Linked DNA regions of Homo sapiens: all the other regions are linked to region 2. The links come from fine-mapping of genetic effects on gene expression. A gene starts in region 2. Each other region holds a variant in brackets. All regions are shown on one strand. Distances are between the middles of the regions.

Region 1 (7,904 bases), 76 kb after region 2:
GAAAAAGTGGCTTTTACTTCCCTCCCTACCTAATCCTGGACTGACTGCCTACTGCTAGTCTGAGAGAAATGTCTGGTTCAGGCTGCTGCCACATTATTTGGTTGGTTAGGAAGAAATCATTAATTCTATTATCAGCAAAGTGAAGATTACTTTTTAACTCACCTCAAATATGCCCAGAAGTCTGCCTAGTTTTCCTTTGACTCCAGCCTATTAAAAAAAGATGAAATATAAAATGTTTACCTTTTTATAACAAAATGTATATAAATACAAGTTACACTCTGGCTATTTACTTAAATCTAATTAAATACAATACCCCTCCCCATACCAACTCACTATCTTCCTGCTTCTGTGAAGTTTTTATTGTCATTTACTTCATCAGCGGCAAGGACTGATCAAAAATTAGTATTTCTGGCTGGGCGCTGTGGCTCATGTCTGTAATCCCAGCACTTTGGGAGGCCGAGGCAGAAGGATCACTTGAGGTCAGGAGTTCGAGACCAGCCTGGCCAACATGGTGAAACCCTGTCCCTACTAAAAATACAAAAATTAAGGCCAGGTGTAGTGGCTCACGCCTGTAATCCCAGCACTTTGGGAGGCTGAGGCTGGCGGATCACCTGAGGTCAGGGGTTTGAGACCAGTCTGGCCAACATGGTGAAACCCTGTCTCTACTAAAAATACAAAAATTAGCCAGACGCGGTGGCACGTGCCTGTAATCCCAGCTACTCGGGAGGCTGAAGCTGGAGAATCACTTGAACCTGGGAGGCGGAGGTGGCAGTGAGCCAAGATCGCTCCACTGTACTCCAGGCCTGGCAACAGAGCGAGACTCCATCTCAAAAAATAAAAAAAAAAATTAAAATTAAAAATAAAGTTGCATCAGGCAAAAAGCACTCCTGGACCCGTCTCGCTGTCTTAGTGTTATGTAGCAAAGGGCCTTGTTTTTAAAACTCCGAAACAGAATTTGTGTGAAAGAACATCTCACCTCCTCATAAACTTCCCTCACGGCAGCACCGCCAGGTTCCTCCTCGGGTTCCATTCCTCCTCCTGGGACAATCCACTGGTCTGGGTACCGGCTGCTACTCACCAGCAGCACCTGTAAGGTGAACCATAACTGTATACTTCCAGCCTGAGAAGCACTTCGTATATAAACAACATTCTCAAACCTCTGCAAGGTTATAACTCTATTCTAGATTAAAATATTTTAAAATTTAATTAAAATTAGGGGGTACGCATTACACCACAAAAATGCAATTGACAACCTTTGTTAAACACCATCTTTCTGAAATCAGAATTAACATTAACATGGTCACACTACCAAATCACCTTATCTAATGAAATAAACTACTGGTGGTAAAACTCTCAAATTATTGGATAATAACAAAGGATAAAAACAGAAACTTGGCTGGGCGCGGTGGCTCACGCCTGTAATCCCAGCACTCTGGGAGGCCGAGGCGGGCGGATCAAGAGGTCAGGAGATCGAGATCATCCTGGCTAACATGGTGAAACCCCAAACCCCGTCTCTACTAAAAAAATTAGCCAGGCATGGTGGCGGGCGCCTATAGTCCCAGCTACTTGGGAGGCTGAAGCAGGAGAATCGCTTGAACCCAGGAGGTGGAGGTTGCAATGAACTGAGATCGTGCCACCATACTCCAGCATGGGTGACAGAGACTCCATCTCAAAAAAACAAAAAACAGAAACTTGGCTTATTAGCCAGAGTTGTATGCACTGAGGTCTATGGTCACATAAGTTTATTTAGTTATGGAATATTCCAAATTTAAGGAAATGACCATAGGTAGGTTACCTTGTTTCCTCACCTAAAAAATAAGAATACTAAGAAGATAACAGATGTGTGAGAAAGAAATAGGGAAATGCACATAAAGACGATTCTTGATACAGAGTGCTTGTTACTGTTATGATTAGGTGGCAAGAAGCATCCTTCACATTTTAAACCTGCATACATAGGCAAAAGTCACTTCATTCTTCTAACAGGCAGCTATCATTTATGATCTAGAACAGGACTGGCAGTCTGCAGCTCACCACCTGTACAGTCTGTGAGCCAGAAGTATTTTTACATTTTAAAATTATGTGAAATTCAAATTTCAGTGTCCACAGATGGAATTATTAGAATCGAGTCACTTACTCATTTTTACATATTGTCTGGTTGTTTTAATGATGCAACAGCAGAGTCAAAGCAGTTGTGACAGAGACTGTGTGGCCCTCAAAACTTAAAATGTTTGTCTGGCCCTTAATTTGGAAGTCTATGGACCCCTTACCAAGAATAGCATTAAGATTGAAATGTGGCCGGGCGTGGTGGCTCACATCTATAATCCCAGCACTTTAGGAGGCCGAGGTGGGCGATCACCTGAGGTCAGGAGTTCCACACCAGCCTGGACAAAACATGGTGAAACCCCGTCTTTACTAAAAATACAAAAATTAGCCAGGTGTGGTGGTGCATGCCTGTAATCCCAGCTAATCGGGAGACTGAGGCATGAGAATCACTTGAACCTGGGAGGCGGAGGTTGCAGTGAGCAGTGAGCAGAGATTGCACCACTGCACTCCAGCCTGGGCAACAGAGCAAGACTCCATCTCGGGGAAAAAAAAAAAAAAAAAAGACTGAAATCTACAAATTGTTACAAAAATACCCTATTACCTTAGACAAGTATCCTAGATTTTATTTAACAGGTAACAGGTATTACATACCCATCTTTTAAATGAATATCTGGCCGGGCGCAGTGGCTCATGCCTGTAATCCTAGCACTTTGGGAGGCTGAGGTGGGCAGATCACCTGAGGTCAGGAGTTCCACACCAGCCTGGACAAAACATGGTGAAACCCCGTCTTTACTAAAAATACAAAAATTAGCCAGGTGTGGTGGTGCATGCCTGTAATCCCAGCTAATCGGGAGACTGAGGCATGAGAATCACTTGAACCTGGGAGGCGGAGGTTGCAGTGAGCAGTGAGCAGAGATTGCACCACTGCACTCCAGCCTGGGCAACAGAGCAAGACTCCATCTCGGGGGAAAAAAAAAAAAAAAAAAGACTGAAATCTACAAATTGTTACAAAAATACCCTATTACCTTAGACAAGTATCCTAGATTTTATTTAACAGGTAACAGGTATTACATACCCATCTTTTAAATGAATATCTGGCCGGGCGCAGTGGCTCATGCCTGTAATCCTAGCACTTTGGGAGGCTGAGGTGGGCAGATCACCTGAGGTCAGGAGTTCAAGACCAGCCTGGCCAACATGGTGAAACCCCATCTCTACTAAAAATACAAAAAATTAGCCGGGCGTGGTGGAAGGCACCTGTAATCCCAGCTACTTAGGAGGCTGTGGCAGGAGAATCACTTGAACCTGGGAGGCGGAGGTTGCAGTGAGCCGAGATCATGCCACTACACTCCAGCCTGGGCAACAGAGCTAGATTCTGTCTCAAAAAAAGGAAAAAAAAAAGGGGGGGGGGGAAACAAAGGAATATTTGTGGGCTAGCTTAGGTTGAACTTCACTTAAGTTAAAATCAACTCAAGGTGAGCGTGGTGGCTCATGCCTATAATCCCAGCACTTTGGGAGGCTGAAGTGGGTGGACATCTGAGGTCAGGGGTTCAAGACCAACCTGGCCAACATGGTGAAACCCTATCTCTACTAAAAATACAAAAATTAGCTGGGTGTGGTAGCACATTCCTGTAGTCCCAGCTACTCAGGAGGCTGAGGCACAAGAATTGCTTGAATTCAGGAAGCGAAGGTTGCAGTGAGCCGAGACTGCACCACTGCACTTCAGCCTGGGCAATGGAGTGAGACTCTGTCTCAAAAAAATAAAAAATAAAAATAAATAAGTCAATTTGAACAAAAGTGTCCACAAAATTATCTTAGTATACTACCTTCAAGTAAATTTAAACAGTTCTCCCTCGAAAACACATAGGGTTTATCACGAAGTTTAATTCCCAGTGTGCATAGAGATGATGATGATAACTAAGACAGGGTCTCACTTGGACATCCACGTTGGAGTGCAGTGACACAATCTCTGC[T/C]GACTGCAGCCTTCACTTCCCGGGCTCAAGTGATCCTCTCACTCCAGCTTCCCGAGCAGTTGGGAGTACAGGCACCCACCACCAGGCCTGGCTAATTTTTGTACTTTTTTTTTTTTTTGAAATGGAGTCTCGTCCTATCATCCAGGCTGGAGGGCAGTGGCATGGTCTTGGCTCACAGCAACCTCTGCCTCCCGGGTTCAAGTGATTCTCCCACCTCAGCCTCCAAAGTAGCTGGGATTACAGGCACCTCCCACCAAGACCAGCTAATTTTTGTATTTTGAGTAGAGATGGGGTTTCGCCACGTTGGCCAGACTGATCTCAAACTCCTGACTTCAAGTGATCTGCCTGCCTTGGCCTCCCAAAGTGCTGGGATTACAGGAGTAAGCCACCATGCCCAGTCTGATTTTCGTATTATTTTGTAGAGGTGGGGTCTTGCCATGTTGCCTAGACAGGTCTCAAAACCATGGGCTCAAGTGATCTTCTCACCTTGGCCTCCCAACTGGGATTACAGGCAAGAGCCATGACTGATTTTTTTTTCTTTTAAATGCATGCCAGCACTTCTATCTGCCCTGCTCCCTCCCTGCTGCCAGGAGCTGCTGGCCTTTAAGAGTTCTCAGCCAGCACAGGAGTCCTCTCTCATTTGACTAAGTTACCAGGAACTTTTCCAAACTGGAAAGTTTCAAGCTGACAATTCAGCAACTCCCACCCTTCTCTCAAGCCCCCAAAATGCTGAGTTAAAAGAGAGTATCTATTTAGGCATAGAACCTCCTCTTAGAAAAGCAGCATTCCAGGCCAGGCATGGTGGCTCACGCCTGTAATCCCATCCCAGCACTTTGGGAGGCCAAGGCGGGCAGGTGTGAGAACAGCCTGGGCAACACAGCAAAACTCCCTCTACAAAAAAATACAGAAATCAGCCATGCATGGTGACATGTGCCCATAATACCAGCTACTCAGGAGGCTGTGGTGGAAGGGATCACCTGAGCCCAGGAGGTCGAGGTTACAGTGAGCTGTGATCATGCCACTGCACTCCAGCCTGGGCGACAGAATGAGACTGTCTCAAAAAAAGGGAGGGGGGGTTATTACATTATCAAATTATACCCAGATGAGACTTTATAGAAAATTAGAAAAAGAAAATTAAAAATCCAAAAGTGCATGCAAGGGTCTCTAAGTTCAAATTCTACTTTCAACAGAGAAACTACAAATCAGATTTCAAAACCTTTGTATTTTATTCAAAATTGGAGGCTTACAGAGGATCTATGGCAACCAAAGGCACTGGCCCTCTATCAAGACTGGCAAGTGAATGTTAGTTTTTAAGTTAAATAAAAATGTTAAGAGTTTGTCTCGCATCACTGGAAAAGTAAACAGCAACTACTGGTCCGGACTGCAGAGTTACAGGCCTCTTTTTCTGGTCACTAGGTTTGGGTTAGGAATAAACTGGTTTCTATTGCCTAGATGAAATTCTTGTTACACAATTCTATGCTCTCTAAGCAACTTCCTGGATTACGTTAATAATGGGACATAACGCAGGTGGCTAGCCGCCTGAAAAGTACATCATCACTTAGTAAATAGTAAATAGGGAGTTCAAAATCATCCATATTCAAAATGTTGCAGTCCTGAATAAATGAAATGCAAAGTCTCATGTATCTAGGTCATTGACTATGATGTTTCCAGTTCTCCAAGACAGAGCTAAATTACAGGAGATTAATAATGTTGAAAAACCATTAGTATAAGATGTGTCTGCTTTTCTGAAGAAACATTTTATGCTTCAGATTTTTTTTTTTTTGAGACAGAGTCTCGCTCTGTCATTCAGACTTGAGTCTAGTGGTGCAATCTCGGCTCACTGCAACCTCCGCCTCCTTGGTTCAAGCAATTCCCTCCCTCAGCCTCCCGAGTAGCTGGGATTACAGGCTCCCACCACCATGCCCAGCTCATTTTGGTACTTTTAGTAGAGATGGGGTTTCACCATCTTGGCCAGGCTGGTCTTGAACTCCTGACCTCGTGATCCACCTGCCTCGGCCTCCCAAAGTGCTGGGGTTACAGGTGTCAGCCACCGCGCCCGGTCTATGCTTCAGATTTAAAACCAATCCTGCATCTACAAGACATCAGCATGACTAAACTTTTCTTCCAAAAATGAGTAATATGGAACCCTTGTGTCTCAACATCTCTCTTTCATAAATTACTTTTTAGAAAGCCTCATGAAAATAGTATATAAATTTGATAAGTGATTTAGCACAATCCAGTAATTTATGATATAAGAATCTCGGCTCACTGCAACCTCCGCCTCCCCGGTTCAAGCGATTCTCCTGCCTCAGCCTCCCAAGTAGCTGGGATTACAGACATGCGCCACCACGCCCAGCTAATTTTGTATTTTTAGTAGAGACGGGGTTTCTCCATGCTGGTCAGGCTGGTCTTGAACTCCAGACCTCAGGTGATCTGCCCGCCTCAGCCTCTCAAACTGCTGGGATTACAGGCATGAGCCACCACACCCAGCCAAATGTATCTTTCAAAAAAAAGGCCGATAAATTTAAATGAGTAATTATCTATGGTCCAGAAATGATTCACATCTAAACTACTAGCTTAAGGCAGATGTGCTAATATCCAACTTTTGGTGATGGTAGTTTTAAAATCCAGCATGTTTCATTAAGCACTTGTCTACTCATCTAAATTGACAAACCTGCAGATAGAATTGGGCTCCTCTGGGCCCTTGATCTGCCAATTAATTCCAGTCTGTCCTAAACTCTGCTACTTTTGAACCTTTCATGCTTTTGAGGGTCTACAGCTAACACAGTCACCACTAGCATCATATGGCTAAATTTAAGATTAAATAAAATTTAAAATTCAATTCCTTAGTCCAGTCATATTTCAAGTGCTCATCTCAAGGGTCACATATTGGACATCTACAGCCAATTAATGGTATATCCTTTTCAGAACAGGTAAAATATGTAACTGTTAGTTATTTATCCACTTAAATTTTCATGCAAAACCTTACCACTTTAAAATGCTTTTCGAAAGAAAATCAGAATCATGAAAATGGGCTAGCAGGAAAGAAGCATCATGCACATGGTATCCAAACTAAATCCATTCACTTTTGTCTTTACAATCTTCAGCCTCTAGAAGGACAGAGAACAGACTGACTCCTGTCAAAAAGTGACAATTCAGCACAAGTTCTCCACCTTAAAGAGAAGCACTGTGGAGAAAGAAGTTGCTGATTTTGTTCCTTATCTACTAATTGTGTGATACTCAACAAGAATTGTATGTGATGAAAAGATACTGAATATACATCTTTCCCTCAAAGAGCTTATATTCTTGGAGGTGGGGTTGGAATACAGTCACATAGAATGCTCAATATTTTGTGTCTAAAAACTGCAAGAACACATACATCTATATAAATCTATATCATTATAAATTGTGGACAAACGATTTAGCCTAATCCAGTAACTTATCATCCAAGAGTCCCTTGACATCTCAGGAAGAATAAATTTGGTCAGACCAATAACTTCAAATTATCTTTCCATAAAATGATCGCTTTAAATGGGTACTTAATATCTGTGATATAGAAATGACTGGCCATCTAAACAACTAGCTTATGAAAAGAGGTCTCACACAGATGTCATGGTGACAGATTTGAAAGTCTGTCTGTTTCATTAAGTACTTGCCTACTCATCTTGAATAGTTCATTTGAGTGTTCAAATGAGGGCAAGGCCACATCTGGGGGGGTGGTGGTGGGGAGAAGGCAGTGACTAAGAGTGAGCAAGAACTGAGGGATACACTCCAGATAAGAGAATAGACTGGATGATGGCGTATGTCTGCCAGGGTGGAAAAATATGAACAGCATTAGTAGAGAGAAGGACAATTAAAACAGTCCCCTGCCTGCCCCCAACCCCAATAACA
Region 2 (7,904 bases):
CCCTGCTAAAAATACAAAAATTAGGCCAGGCGCAATGGCTCACACCTGTAATCTCAGCACTTCGGGAGGCCAAGGCAGGAGGATCATTTAAGGTTGGGAGTTCGAGACCAGCCTGGCCAACATGGTGAAACTTTACCTCTACTAAAAATACAAATATTAACCAGGCCTGGTGGTAGGTGCCTATAATCCCAGCTACTCGGGAGGCTGAGGCAGGAGAATCACTTGAACCTGGGAGGCAGAAGTTGCAGTGTGCCAAGATCATGCCTCTGCACTCCAGCCTGGGAGCAAGATCCAGTCTCAAAAAATAAAATAAAATAAAATAGAGTAGGATCTGGCAAACTTTTGAGCATTCTATTCAACAAAGGTGTTTACTGAGTAAAATATTTTCCTCGTCTCAAGCATAACAAATTGCCTATTTATTACTTTACTTATACTCCATTCTTCAAATAGCTCTTTTCTCCCTAATTCAATAAGCAAACTTTCAATTACAAATGGTGGTAAATAGGAAATAAGAAAGAAGAGACAAAGGTCAAGGTCAAGCAGAGTTGTATTTAAAAAGTCAGCTGCACTTGCATGTTTATCAGAGCACTATTCACAATAGCGAAGACATGGAAACAAGCCCATCAATGGTGGACTGGAAGAATATGTGGTGTATATGCATACCATGGATTATTACACAGACATTAAAACAAATAAAATCATGTCCTTTACAGCAACACAGATGCAGCTGGAGGCCATTATCCTAAGTGAATTAATGCAAAAACAGCCAAATACTACATGTTCTAACTTACAAGTAGGAGGTAAACATTGGGTACATATGGACACAAAGATGGGAACAATAAACACTGGGGACTCAAAACAGAATGGAGGGATGGAGGGAAGAGTTGAAAAACTACCTATTGGGTACTATGTTCACTATTTGGGTGACGGGTTCAGTTGAAGCCCAAACCTCAGTATATGTAATACATCCACGTAACAAACCTGCACATGTACGCCCGAATCTAAAATAAAAAATAAAAATAAAAAGTTGGCTCACATAGTTTAATATAAAAAGGCAAACCTACTGTTGCCTTCTATACATGTCTACTTTAGAAATGGAAAGCTTCCTATAAGAGCTGTTTATAAGAGCTATAAACTCTGTTTACAGACAGGAAAAGGAAAAAGAAAGCACAGTTGGCTGAGAAAAAAGACTTTAATACTCTATTTACTTATTTGGGTCCATGCTTTGACTGTCAAACATGTATTAACAAGCTTTCGAGAAAATACTAACTATATACAGTTCTTTAGAAAAGAAAGGCAGAAATTACATTTCATTTTTTTAAAAATGGCTAGGTACATAGAAAAAACACAATGACAATCCACCAAAATATTAACAATGATTATCTTTGGAAGATGGGACTGTGAATTTACCCTTTATTCGCACATTTTAAGAAATACTAAAAAAGTAATCACGCCACTGCACTCCAGCCTGGGCGACAGAGCCAGACTCCGTTAAAAAAAAAAAAAAGAGAGAAATACTAAAAAAGTAATACATGTAATCGAACAAGAGAAAGTTACCCTTGACCAGTCCCTTACTCCTGCCCTCAGCCAAATCCCAAGAGTGGGCTACACAGATAACCACTGTTTGGTCCAGACCTTTTACCTCTGCATTTATGCATATGCACACATGCATATGATGGATCATCTTTTAAACATACAAATAAGATCATATGATAGATATATATAGATGTGGTTCTGACATGCTTTTTTTGTTTCTATTTGGAGATCTTTCCATGTCAGTAACAGCTACATGACAGTCACAGTTCAGATGTACCATAATTTATCCATTCCCCTCCCCAACCCACATTTTTTTTTAGAGGTGGGGGTCTTGCTATGTTGCCCAGGCTGGTCTCAAACCCCTGGCCTCAAGCAATCCTCCCACCTCAGCCTCCCAAAGTGCTGGGATTACAGGCATGAGACACCACATCTGACCTATCCATTCCCCTTCTGACTGACATTTAGGTTTTCTCCCACTTTCCATTGCTGCAAACACTCCTGCAAATTACAGGCATATACAATAACTAAATGCTTTAAATTTTCTTAATTCTTAAAAGTTTAAAAGTTTTTAAACATTAAAAAAAATTTCACTTACTTTGGACTGGAAATAAATGTTTCAAGATAGTTCTCTTTGACATCACCCATTTTACTGCAGCTACAGCCATGGTGTTTCAAGATGCTTATCAAGTGGTATGAAAAAAGATGTTCTGAAGAGAAACTGCTTTTAGAATCTGCTTCTAAGCATACCAATTTCTACTCCTGCTGAAGAGATAAAGAAAAATCAGTGCTACCTATGGTAAATTTAAGTTATATTAAACACCACAAGAACAAGGTAAGAATCACTGCCTAGAAGTCAACTGAAGCAATGCTTTTAAACAACTTGGCAATTCCACATGATTGAACAACAGGACGAAGAGCGACATGGACAGAATATAAGATCAGAACCACTGGAACTATGTCCATTACTATTTATCTTAGATACAAACTTCTCTGCAGGACCCAGTGCAGCTCCTTCCACTTAATGAATACTCAGTAAATGTGTAATTACTCTTGAAACAGTCACTCACAAATGGTACACAGAGTATTCATTCTTTTAATGCTAGTGTGGCTGTGTACACCCTCCAAGGTTCCATACACAAGATACTACATCATTTACAGTACTATCCTGTTTCTGATTAAATGAAATAGTTGTCTGCCCTGAGCCATTAATAATAATAATAATAATAAAGAAATATCAAACAAGGCCTATCCTTAGCCTATTACTCAATTGGAGGAACTCATAAATGCCCTCAAGTCCCAGATAAAATTTCACCATCTTATATGTGTACAAAGTCTTTAACTTTCCAACGTACTTTCACCACCATTTCATTTTGCTCTCGTATTAATCATGTGAGGTATCTTTATTCTGATTCATGAAGAAACTAAAGTACAAAATTTAAACGTCTTGCTTCCAAGGACTTTAGAGTCAGTCACTGCCAAATTGGGAAACTTTAAACAAGTCATTAACTAAACGATCCTCAGTTTCTCCAATGACAAAATGGGGAAAACCACAATCTTCATGGCCTGTTGTGAATAAATGACAAATAACCATTGTTAAATCTTGTTTTTAATAGTCTTCAATGAGTATCCGTGCCCTTCCCCCCAATAGTGATAAAAGAGAATTAGGACACAGGCCCTCTTATTTGCTAGTCTAAACCACTCACACTGATACCTTGCACTGCCAGTACATTAACACCGTTAACCCTGAGCTCATAGGTGTGCTTTTTAGTTTACAACCCACTTTCATATACAATATGTGCTCTGACTTTCACAAGTGTGTGAAGCAGCATCTCCATTTCAGATTAAGAACAAAGGCTCAGAGAGGTCAATCGATTACTTGCTCAGTATATCGCTGCTTAATACATGCGTGGGACGTAAACCCATGACTTCTGACCACGAATAAAACATCTTGGGGGAAATTAGGTCCCCTCTGTCCGAAGCCCAGAGAAAAGCACGCCCTGCTGGGAGTCAGATTATTCACCCCAGGAAGATCATTTCAGAGATCAAGTCCCTCAGCCCGGAATTCAACCCCAAAACAAAAGCTACAGAGCCTCTGAGGGTCAGAGGTTTGAGGAACAGGCTACCAAGAGCACCAGAACTCTTCGACCTAAAGGAGTCCCTAGAGCCACAAGCTGCATCACCTCCCCACGGGCGTCCGCCAGGGAACAAAGGGGGCGCTATAAGAAACGCGCAGCCACATGCCGGCTCTTCTGCAGGAAGGACAAAGGCTGGGGATGCAGGCAACCTCGCCCTGCCGGGAACGACAGGCGGGAGACCTCTACAACTGCCGACCAACACTGTGGGACTGCCCAGTTTCGAGGAAGTCCTCGACAGGAGGAGTAGAGGGAAGCGGTTACCTTGACGGCTTCTCACCACGAACCCGCCATCTTGTTTCAATCCTGGTCCCACGAAACAGCGCTGCGCGCGCCGTCCCAGCCCGCGGGGCATTCTGGGAAATGTAGTCTCCGCGGGAAAGCGGCCCGGGTGCAGAGAGAAAGGGAGGATTGTTGCTATGGACTTTTACCTTTAGTTGGGGAAGCGTGGCCGCAGTGTTACTAAGGTGCCCAGAAAAACAAAATCACTGCCCCAAACACATACCCTTAGAAAGTAACAAGCTTTTTTTTTTTTTTTTTTTTGTGAGGCAGTCTCATTCTGTCACCCAGACTGGAGTGCAATGGCTCCCTCACGGCTCACTGCAGCCTCTACCTCCTGGGCCCAAGAGAGCCTCCCACCTCAGCCTCCTGAGTAGCTGGTACTACAGGCGCACACCACCACACCCAGCTAATTTTTTAATATTTTTGTAGAGACGAGGTCTCGGTATGTTGCCCAGGCTTGTCTCAAGCAATCCTCCTGCCTCGGCGTCCCAAAGTGCTGGAATTACAGGCATGAGCCACCATGCAAACCTATAAGTACTTTTTAAAAAAATTATGTTAATATTCAGAGAAATCGTAGATTGCTCTTTAGTAGATGAGTTAAAGTTTCCCAGGGGAAGAGACATTCCAGAGAAGCCCTGAAATGTGGAGGCTAGGATTTGGACGTTTGAAATCAGAACCTGAAGAGAACCTCCACTCTGAAAACCTGGCACTGTGCCCTCAGAACTGTGCTGGCTACCTATTATGGGAGGAAGTAAATATGCAGAATCTTGGACCTCGCTTTCCATCTTAGGAGGAAGGAAAGACCTCTGGGCCTTTGCACTCTCTGTTCCCATTGCCAGCAATGTGCTTCTCTGACCTCTTCTCATGACCTTACAGGTCTTTCTCAAATATCATCTTAGAAAGGACCACACCATTAAAATAGCCTCACCCACCCTTATTCCATGCCCCGCTTTATTTTCCTTCAGAATATTTACCATTACCTGACTTTATATTGATTATTTGTTTGCTCGTTGAATGTCTCTTTCTTTTTTTTTTTTTTTTTGAGACGGAGTCTTGCTCTATCGCCCAGGCCGGAGTGCAGTGGCATGATCTCAGCTCACTGCAACCTCCGCCTCTCAGCTTCAAGCGATTCTCCTGCCTCAGCTTCCTAATTAGCTGGGATTACAGGTGGCCACCACCACGCCCAGCTAATTTCTGTATTTTTAGTAGAGATGGGGTTTCGCCATGTTTGCCCGGCTGATCTCGAACTCCTTACCTCAGGTGATATGCCCACCTCGGCCTCTCAAAGGGCTGGATTACAGGCGTGAGCCACCACACCCAACCTCGTTTAATGTCTCTTATGCTGGATAATGTAAGCTCCTTGAAGACAGAGACATATGTCTATCTTGTTCTTCACTGTATGCAAACCCAGCATCTCAGACTGTGCTTGGTCTCATTATAGGTCTCCAGGAAGTGTTTGCTGAATGAATGAAAAGACTAGATAACGCTGCAAGTATCCAAGACAGTAGATGATTGGCTGGTAAAGCAGAAGCGGTCGCCTGGAAATTCCCTTCTCCCATGATTTGCAAAATTTTGCTTTTGTATATTTTTCTAAGAAATAATCTATAGCTTTTATTATGTATTCCAGGGAATTGATAAACCCCTCAACAAGTTAAGAACCATATTCCTGAAGTGACTAGTATTGAAAGTAAGTGAACACACATCACATAGTAAAGAAAACTAAATACGGGCTGTGTAGTGTGTCTCCTCATTTCCCACGGAATATCAGGAGGCTAATCTTTGCTCTTATAGAAGCCCACAGAGGGCCCATCTGTGTCCTTTCCAGTCGTGTCCATCCTCCAAAGCCACCCATGATGTCTTTCTGGACTGTGCAATAGGAAGGGACAGAGAGGAGAAACAGATTTGAATGAGCAGTCAACTGGACTGGTTGAACATTCCCTGCGTAAAGTGTAAGAAGAATGGATCAAAGATAATTCCAGAGGTCAAGTCTTGATGGCTGTGAGCAGAGTGGGACCAGTCCCCAACAGGGAGACTCACTTAGTGGGACCAAGGAAGGTCTCACAAAGCTGAGACCAGAAAAGAAACCAACATTTTTGGGGGAAGAGAGGGGAGAGACAGGTTTAGGCTGAGTGAGGGAACAACTTACACAAAGGTTTAATGTGGTGGAAATAGCTTACCATATACTGGAGTAGGGTGGATAGTGTGGATGAGAGCGGCAGGAGATGAGATTTGGAGCCAGGTCATGTTGGGCTTCATAAGCCTTGGAGGGGTTAACATGGAGTTAGGACACAGGACATATGTAGAGATTAAATAGAGTAGGTGGTGCTGTGTGCCTGTAGTCCTAGTTACCCTGGGAATGGGAGGCTGAAGTGGGAGGATTGCTTGAGCCCAGGAGGTCAAGGCGGTAGTAAGCTATGATCGTGCCGTGCACTCCAGCCTGGGTGACAGAGTGAGCCCTGTCTCTTGAGATTTTTACATGAAAGAAGTGACATAATTTGATTTCCATTTTTAAAAGGTTACTCTGGCTGCCCTGGGAGGAGTGGTTTGGAGAGTGGCAAGACCGCAGGCAAGTCTAGCAAGGAAGCTACTGCAGTACTGCAGTCAAGAAATCATGTGATGGAGGGTGGTGGCAGTGGAGATGGAGAGACAGGAAGAGTCCAGATGTATTTTGAAATTGGAAGTGATGACTTAACTTGCTGATGGATTGATTGAGAGGGAGGAAGATACTTCAGGTGATGCTTTGATGACTAGTTGACAGTGGTGCCCTTCATAAGACAAGGAAGACTGAAAGAGGAACAGGTTTGGGGAGTCTGATGATGGTGGAAATGCATACTTCCGTTTGGGAGTTGTTGAGTTTGAGATGGCTCTGAGACACTCCAGTGGAGATACAAAACAAGTCAGCAGCCTGGGCAATATAGTGAGTGAGGCCTTGTCTCTACAAAAAATAAACAGAATTAGTAAGGTTGATGATGCACACCTGTGATCCCAGCTACTAAGGAGGCTGAGGTAGGAGGATCGTTTGAGCCCTGGAGGTTGAGGCTGCAGTGAGCTATGGTCATGCCACTGCACTCCAGCCTGAGTAACAGAGTGAGAGCCCCATCTCCAAAAAAACAAAAAACAAAAGGCAGGTACTTGAAGAGGTGTGTTTGGAGAGTAGAGGTTGGACTAGGTATAGAAAAAAAAAGATAAAGGGCCTAGAAGCTGGCCCCAGGGAATTCGAAGGCTTAGAAATCAGATGGAGGAGGATAACCTTTAGCAAGGGCCTCCCAGGAGTGGCAGTGAGAAAGGTAGAAGGAAAACAAATACTGTGATGTAAGAGTAGTTAAGAGAGGCCATGTCACAAAGTGTTCCTAACTTAAGAGGTCAGTGCTAGCAACTTAAAAAGTATAATTTCCAAAAATACAAACTTGAAATACCAGCAAATAACTTATATTGGCCTACATAAAAGTGCTTTATTTTATTTTATTTATTTATTTTTTTAAGACGGAGTCTTGCTCTGTCACCCAGGCTGGAGTACAGTGATGTGATCTCGGCTCACTGCAACCTCCACCTCCTGGGTACGAGTGATTCTCCTGCCTCAGCCTCCTGAGTAGCTGGGATTACAGGTGCCCACCACAATGCGCAGCTAATTTTTGTATTTTTAGTAGAGACGGAGTTTCACCATGTTGGCCAGACTGGTCTCGATCTCCTGACCTCAAGTGATCCGCCCACCTCAAGTGATCCGCACACTTCACCCTCCCAAAGTGCTGGGATTATAGGCATGAGCCACTGTGCTCAGCTACAAATGCTTTAAATTCATGCTAGTAAAATGACAAACAGACAAAATTCTAGAACTTTGGAATTGGCATCAAATGGCTTCCATTTAAAAGAGGATTGCCTTTTCTTCTGTAACTTCCCAGAAAAAAAAGTCATTCTTTGTATCAATCAGAGAGCAAAGACTCCAGAGCAATCTTA
Region 3 (7,904 bases), 170 kb before region 2:
TGCAAAAGTCATTTCAATTTTTAATTATTTTTTTAAAAAAGAAAGTGATTTGATGCATTCATTCTTTAAGGTAAAATAAAACATAAGCATAAGCAGTTAGAATTAGATAAATTATTGTAAAAGTCAATTCAATAATCAATTATTACAAAATCTAAATAACTACTTGCACATGACGGTTGGGTATGTTAGCATAACCAGATAATTGGTTATTGATAGACCGTAGGGTACATAATTATTCATTACCTGGATGCAATGCTGATTTCTCGCTGTGCTGATGTATGTCATTAGCTACATTTTAAAGAAGACCTTATTCACTTGCTTAAGGCTCCATAGAAGGTAGATCTTGTTTTTTTAATCTCTAAACAAAAAAGATTTCTTTTACATTTTTTATCATGACATTTTAAAATTGTGTACTTTCCTCATTTAGAACTTCAAGCTCCTGGGTTTGTAAGACCAACTGCCAAGCCTCCTATTGTCAAAAGAAGTTTCTGGGAGTCCCTCCTGCTTATTCCATCTCCATAAACCTCAGGATTCAAACTGATGACTCACCATATTAGGTTTCTGGCAATAGACTGATGTTTCTCGCCATTGCTCTCTAGAGCACTGTAATTTTAGCCTTAAGATATCATGATAATTTCTCCTACCTGCAAATTCACACTCATTAAACTGGGTGATAATTATGCAAGGACTCACTAACAAAAGGATTACAGCCAGGCAACAATTCCATAATTAATGTCTAGTTTTTGTTATTGTTCTTGTTTTTCCTTTGAGTGATAGATTTTTTTTTCTCCGAACCCAACAAAGATTTTTCAGCTTAAATAAAGATGACATTGTCGTGATCATTGTAAAATTGATTCAAAAGCTAGCCAGTGAAAAAATACATTAGACTAACAGAAAAGAAAGTCGGGTTTTGTTTTATTTTACTTTTGAGACAGGGTCTCACTCTGTCGTCTAGTCTGGAGTGCAGTGGCATGATCACGGCTCATTGCAACCTCAACTTCCCTGGACTCAGGGGATCCCACCGCCTCAGCCTCCCAAGTAGCTGGGACTACAGATGTGCACCACCATGCCTGGCTAATTTTTGTATTTTTTGTAGGGACAGGGTCTTGCCGTGTTGCCCAGGCTGGTCTCGAATTACTGGACTCAAGTGATCCACCCAACTTGGTCTTCTCCAAAGGTGTTGGAATTACAGGTGTGAGCCACTGTGCCTGGCCCAGAAAGCTGAATTTTAGATGTGACTGCCTGATGTCTTATTCTGTTTCAGGACTACCTTAAGTCTGTTCTCCACAACTTTTTAGTCTCTGTAGGCCAATTGCACTAGGAACCACTCTCCCATCTACTATTATTTATAACTACAAAACACACAGCAAACTGTGTGCAAGCACATACATGTTTATTCACCTGATGAGCTTTTACTTTGTGCTAACTATATGGCTGACATAATTTGCTGCTCCGTAGAATTCAAAAATAAAACAGTCACTTTTTAAAGGATGCATAGGTATAATATGACTCAGTAAATCACAGAAGAAATACAATGACCAATACATATTTGAAACACTGTTCACATCTACCAGTAATCAATAAAATATAAACAAAGATGACAAGAAGGAACTGTTACCTATTAACTTAGAACAGATTTTTAAACATTTTATTATTCTGTAGCAAGTATGAAAAGGACTTGGTTCCTGTACCACAGCTACTCCCAAATCTTCCTAATTAACAGAAAAAAAAATTCTGAGGTATTGAATCTTATAGGAAATATCTGGATGGTCTAAACTGATCATAGTCTCACTACCCTTGCTGGTACCTAGTTTCTGCATATGCATGTAATATGGTTTGGCTGTGTCTCCACCCAAATCTCACCTTGAATTATAATAATCCCCATGTGTCAAGTGCAGGGCCAGGTGGAGACAACTGAACCATGGGGGTGGTTTCCCTCATACTGTTCTCATGGTAGTGAATAAGTCTCATGAGCTCTGACGGTTTTATAAATGGGAGTTCCCCTGCACAAGCCCTCTTGCCTGCCGCCATGTAAGACTTGACTTTGCTCCTCATTTGCCTTCTGCCATGATCGTGAGGCCTCCCCAGCCATGTGGAACTGTGAGTCAATTAAACCTTTTTCCTTTACAAATTATCCAGTTTTGGGTATGTTTTTATTAGCAGCGTGAGAACAGACTGATACAGCATGTGATGGAATTCTGTCCATGAGACACAAAGGGAAATCTGCTAGGGAGAGGGGGTACCTAGAAAGATTCTCTTCTTTCTTAGAAAGGGACCCAAGACAGTAATGAATACTCTCTGCTTTCCTGCCTTGTTTATATACCTCTTGATCCAGCAATCTAATCCTAGGTTTTTATCTTGAAGAAATAACTAAGAAAATATGCAAAACTTTACATACAAGTCTATCTAGTTGCAATCAGGCTGTTCTCTTGAATAGGACAGACTTGAATGGAGTTCATTTACTATAATGAAAAATTAGAAACAGTCATAAATGTCCAACAATATGAATTTGGTTAAGAAATTATGAGATTCCATAAGCTACTACATATTCATAAATCATATTGTAAATGAGTGGGAAAATCTTCATGACATACTGTTAAGAGATAAAAGTACAAAAGCAAAAATTTTTAGAAGCATGTTACGTGTGTGTGTGTGTGTGTGTGTGTACGTATACTCCCCTAGAGAGTGGAATAATGAGAGACTCTTATTTTCTTTTTTGAGCTCATTTGGACTTTTCAGTTTGTAGCATTAACATTTTTTCCCTTTGCAACTGAAGGGAAAAAATGTTATTTTTAAAAACTGAATCACATTTGGGTATTATAACAGAGCACAAAGGAGAGGTGGCCTAACCCTAAGTGGGAGTGGGCCATTTCTAGAAGGTGTGCTGGAGCTGAGTCCTGAAGTCAGCCAGGATTATCTGCTGGTGAAGGGAAAAGGGTGTTTCAGGCAGAGGAGAAAGCATACATGGAGAATCAGCTTTGGAGAGAATCGAACTCTAATTTTTGTCCACCACATCTTGCAGCACCACGTCAAGGTCACTTTATGGACTTTGCTGCACCACACTTTAAGTACCAATGCATGGATAATGATTCTTACCCCTTACTTACCTGCATATTTTAGCATGGTTCTTGTGTCCAGTGTGCCCCACAGGCCAGAGCCTGCAGCCCCTAACTCTGTGCTTTCCAACACTGGATGGGCAATATTGTTGCATTCAAGCTATATAATTTGAGAGCAATTGGGAAAAGCTACCCAGCCCCAAAATGTAAATCACTAACTGAACACTGAAAAGACATCCATAGAGATTCATTCTTTTGGGGTATATAAAAAGAAATGTATGTCTTCACTCTCCCCATGTTTCTTTTTAAAAATGTTAACTGCAAGCATGGAGCACAGCGTCAACTACATTTTAGGATGGCTGCCAACCACCATTTTTCTGGGGTATTGTCCTTCCCCTATCCTCATAGACACTACAAGTTGATTGGTTCAGTCAACATCCAATACCAGCTGGACCTAACCCAGTCTTCTCAAAGGAATTTGAAATAAATGAAGTGTTTTTAGTTGCAATCAGCCTGTTTCCCTGAATAGAAGAGAAGTCAACTTGGTTGTTGTTCCTGGAGGCCTTTTTTCCACCATGATGAATAAGAAGGCAGAGAAAGTGGTGTGCAGCAAGATGCAGGGGGCAGGGAGAAGCAGACCTGAGATACAGTGTATGTATTAAGGTAGACTACCCACTATAAGAAACAGCCCCAAATCTCAGTAGCTTAAGACAATACAAGTTTATTTCTTCCTCATGCAAAAATTCGAATCTGATGATGCTGGTTAGATAGCTTTCCTGTGAGCTCTTTCCAAGTGGTGACTCAGGGACCCAGGCTCCTTCTATCTCATGTCTCCATCATCTTATGGCTTCAAGAGCCCCATGATATCATCCCAGCCAGGAGAGGGGAGGAAGAGAGAGAACGTGAAAGATCACAAGAGACATTTTGTGATGTATGCTGGAATAGGCATACCTCACTTCCTTCCACTATCCATTAGCCAGAACTCAATCACATAGTTCTGTAACTGCCCTGGATCAATCTGGTTCAACTCCTATGTAACAAAGTTGTGAGTTATTTTTTAGTC[C/AC]CATGGACCACCCCCCCACCCCAAGGTTGAAGGTCATGTAATCTGAGCATGCCCAGATGAACCAAGCGTGCAACCACAAGTGGAACCAAAGTGCTTGCACTGAGGGGCAAGGACTGAATCAAGAAGCAGACATCTTGGAACGTCTTGGATTCCTTCATGGTAGGATCCAGAATCTAATCAGATTGAGCCCTGGTGTAACTCCATGGCAGAATCCCAACAGATCATGCCTCCTGGCACCACCGCATTGTAAGATCCAATCAGATCACACCTCACTACACTATGCTTATGAAACCCAACCCAGCCCTCAGCTTGGGGAGTCAGATTTGAGCATTTCCTCCTGTCTCCTTGCCAGTTCACTGGCAATAAGCCTTTTTGCTGCAAAAATGCAGTGCTTCAGTGTTTCGCTTTCCATTGCATGCAGGCAAACGAACCCAGTTTGGTTTGGTAACAGTTCTATCTAGATGCAAAGAAGACTAGAAAATTTAACTTCACTTTGTGCCTACAAAGGTAAAAAGAACCAGATATTTGTGAACCCTGGAAGGATCTGCTACATACGGGAAAGATAATGTCTTGGGTTCCTTCTTGATCTTGTGCTGTATGACACTTAATTGGTCAAATCCAATATCCTTACTCAAGCTAGCACAAGTGAGTTTCTAGTATTTATGGACTAACAAATAATCAAAACACTTTCACAGTCGGTGCCGCATCCCCAGCCCGCCGCCATGGCCGCCTACAAACTGGTGCTGATCCGGCACGGCGAGAGCGCATGGAACCTGGAGAACCGCTTCAGCGGCTGGTACGACGCCGACCTGAGCCCGGCGGGCCACGAGGAGGCGAAGCGCGGCGGGCAGGCGCTACGAGATGCTGGCTATGAGTTTGACATCTGCTTCACCTCAGTGCAGAAGAGAGCGATCCGGACCCTCTGGACAGTGCTAGATGCCATTGATCAGATGTGGCTGCCAGTGGTGAGGACTTGGCGCCTCAATGAGCGGCACTATGGGGGTCTAACCGGTCTCAATAAAGCAGAAACTGCTGCAAAGCATGGTGAGGCCCAGGTGAAGATCTGGAGGCGCTCCTATGATGTCCCACCACCTCCGATGGAGCCCGACCATCCTTTCTACAGCAACATCAGTAAGGATCGTAGGTATGCAGACCTCACAGAAGATCAGCTACCCTCCTGTGAGAGTCTGAAGGATACTATTGCCAGAGCTCTGCCCTTCTGGAATGAAGAAATAGTTCCCCAGATCAAGGAGGGGAAACGTGTACTGATTGCAGCCCATGGCAACAGCCTCCGGGGCATTGTCAAGCATCTGGAGGGTCTCTCTGAAGAGGCTATCATGGAGCTGAACCTGCCGACTGGTATTCCCATTGTCTATGAATTGGACAAGAACTTGAAGCCTATCAAGCCCATGCAGTTTCTGGGGGATGAAGAGACGGTGCGCAAAGCCATGGAAGCTGTGGCTGCCCAGGGCAAGGCCAAGAAGTGAAGGCCGGCGGGGAGGATACTGTCCCCAGGAGCACCCTCCCTGCCCGTCTTGTCCCTCTGCCCCTCCCACCTGCACATGTCACACTGACCACATCTGTAGACATCTTGAGTTGTAGCTGCAGATGGGGACCAGTGGCTCCCATTTTCATTTTAGCCATTTTGTCGCCTGCACCCACTCCCTTCATACAATCTAGTCAGAATAGCAGTTCTAGAGCACAGGTTCTCAGTCTAAGCTATGGAAAAGCTCCCCTTATCCAACAGAGTTTAAAAGTAGTGACTTGGGTTTTTGCGAGTGCTTTGTTTACTAAGGACTTTGGGGAGGAACCATGCTAAGCCATGACCAGTGAGGAGAAGCAACAGAGCCTGTCTGTCCCCATGAGCGGAGTCTGTCCTCTGCTCTTCTGCAGTCAGGCCACTGCCTACTGCCTGGGGGCTCTAGTCATTCCAGTGGAAGACGAATGTAACCTGCGTGGTGATGTGACAACTGTTTCCTCCCTGACCCCAGAGGATCTGGCTCTAGGTTGGGATCAATCCTGAATTTCGTTATGTGTTAATTTACTTTTATTAAAAAAGTATAGTATATATAAATAATACAAAACAATAACCCTTCTGGGGTTTCTTGTGGCGGTTGAAATAGTCCCACATGTGGTCATCAGAAAATAAGCCATTCCTCATACCAATATAGGATCAGCTCCTTGACCTCTGAGGGGCAGGAGTGCTTCCTGGTGTGTGTATTAGAATCCCTTCCTGCCTTGTTTCATGGCAGTGAAATGCCTCTTGGTCCTGTCCAAGTGTATCTTTCACTGATTTCTGAATCATGTTCTAGTTGCTTGACCCTGCCACATGGGTCCAGTGTTCATCTGAGCATAACTGTACTAAATCCTTTTTCCATATCAGTATAATAAAGGAGTGATGTGCAAAAAAAAAAAAAAAAAAACACTTTCAGATGATAAAACATTATGACAATCTCATTTAACTTTTACATCAAACCTGTGAGGTAGATCTTACTATCATTCCCATTTTGCTGAAGGAGAAACAGAGTCCCAGAGAAATGATGTGAATTGTGTAAGTCCTGCAACAGCAAGTAGAGCCATGGCTGGAATTAAATCCTTCAAACTCTAATGCTGGGCTCTCTTTCCACTTCATTGTGTGCAAGAGCCGCTGGGAGAGACAGAATTAAACTCCTAACCTCTTAGTGTGAGTGATTTTATTAGATTACTTACAGTCTGGAGGAAGAGAGAATGACAGCGTGAAGCCACCAGCTCTCAGGAGAAAGGGTACATAGAAATGAAATGAAGGGTGCAAAGAGGAAAGTCCAGGCACACCACACACTTCATCTTCTTCACAATTTTGCAGAGGTTTTGGTTGGAACTCAGAAAGAAATCCAATCAAAGCCAAAAGAGTAGGACTCCTCTCTCTATGGAGGGCTGCATTTTGTGTTTGACATTGGAAGACACTCCAGTGTCTGACACGAATAACTTACAGAAAGCCCTGAAGAAAAGCAAGACAAATGGTGAAGACCTTGAGTCATGGCACCCAGATGAAAGGCACTGGGTTGTCAGAGCCTGGGTGATGAGGACAAGGATGAAGGAGAACAGTAAAGCCACCTTTGCGCACAATAAATTATGAGATAACCCTGGAACGACAGCAAACAGCTGCTCGGTTTCCTCAGAGCTAACAGCAGCCACCTCTGCTGGGCTTTTTCCACCACCAGCTCCTTTGACAACCAGCCTAACAGAATTGATGATCAAAGCTCTCCAGTGTGGCAGCAAAGCCTTTGCCGGGGGAAAGGTCTTTAAATGTTACTGGAGCGAGAAGGGAAAGTGCCAGGTAGGAATAACCTTGACAGAATAAAGTGAACAACAAAGTGCTGGAAGCAAACTGTTAAGAGGGTGTGGATACAGCTCGTGAGGTGGCGGTTCCCAAATATCTTTGTGGAGGTTTTCACTGGTCCCCAACAAAAAAGGACAATGTAGCAAGTTTCCCTTATACCTTTCACTTAAAAGACTGTCCTTTATTCCAAGATTTCTTCTTTCACAGTTTTGATATTAAATCTCCTTTTGTGAAAAGACGATAGAAGATGGTGTTCTTTTTTTTTCCTCTCTCTTATATTCATGGTGAAATAAAATGTTGGCAACACTCCATCAGTCCTCAGCTTTTTTTTTTTCTTTTTCACTGGTCCATGAAATTTAAAAGTCTGGTACACATGCAAATGCCCAGAACTCTTTAAGAATCATTCACAAAGAAAGAAAAAAAGAAGACAACTAAGAAAACACCCAAATATATTAAAAGGATAAAC

The links. PIP is the estimated chance that this variant, and not a neighbour inherited with it, causes the effect.
Region 1: its variant is the best candidate, but not a certain one, in a credible set for the expression of MRPL42 in subcutaneous fat (GTEx, PIP 0.56).
Region 3: its variant is the best candidate, but not a certain one, in a credible set for the expression of MRPL42 in damaged cartilage (Steinberg 2020, PIP 0.86).

Annotation. Positions count from the first base shown.
Region 1 is chr12:93,387,792-93,395,695 of GRCh38, reverse strand. It overlaps NUDT4 (nudix hydrolase 4), which reads right to left. Exons shown (of 5, transcript NM_019094.6): 2 at 977-1,087; 3 at 163-207. Among named protein-coding and RNA genes, the nearest start is that of NUDT4, 14 kb to the right of the region's middle. The variant T/C (reference allele first, on the strand shown) is at 4,014.
Region 2 is chr12:93,463,583-93,471,486 of GRCh38, reverse strand. It overlaps MRPL42 (mitochondrial ribosomal protein L42), which reads right to left and starts at 3,973. Exons shown (of 6, transcript NM_014050.4): 1 at 3,933-3,973; 2 at 2,132-2,295. The coding sequence starts at 2,201. RefSeq lists enhancers at 3,752-4,021, 4,082-4,141.
Region 3 is chr12:93,638,524-93,646,427 of GRCh38, reverse strand. It overlaps the pseudogene LOC642969. Among named protein-coding and RNA genes, the nearest start is that of CRADD, 35 kb to the left of the region's middle. The variant C/AC (reference allele first, on the strand shown) is at 4,120.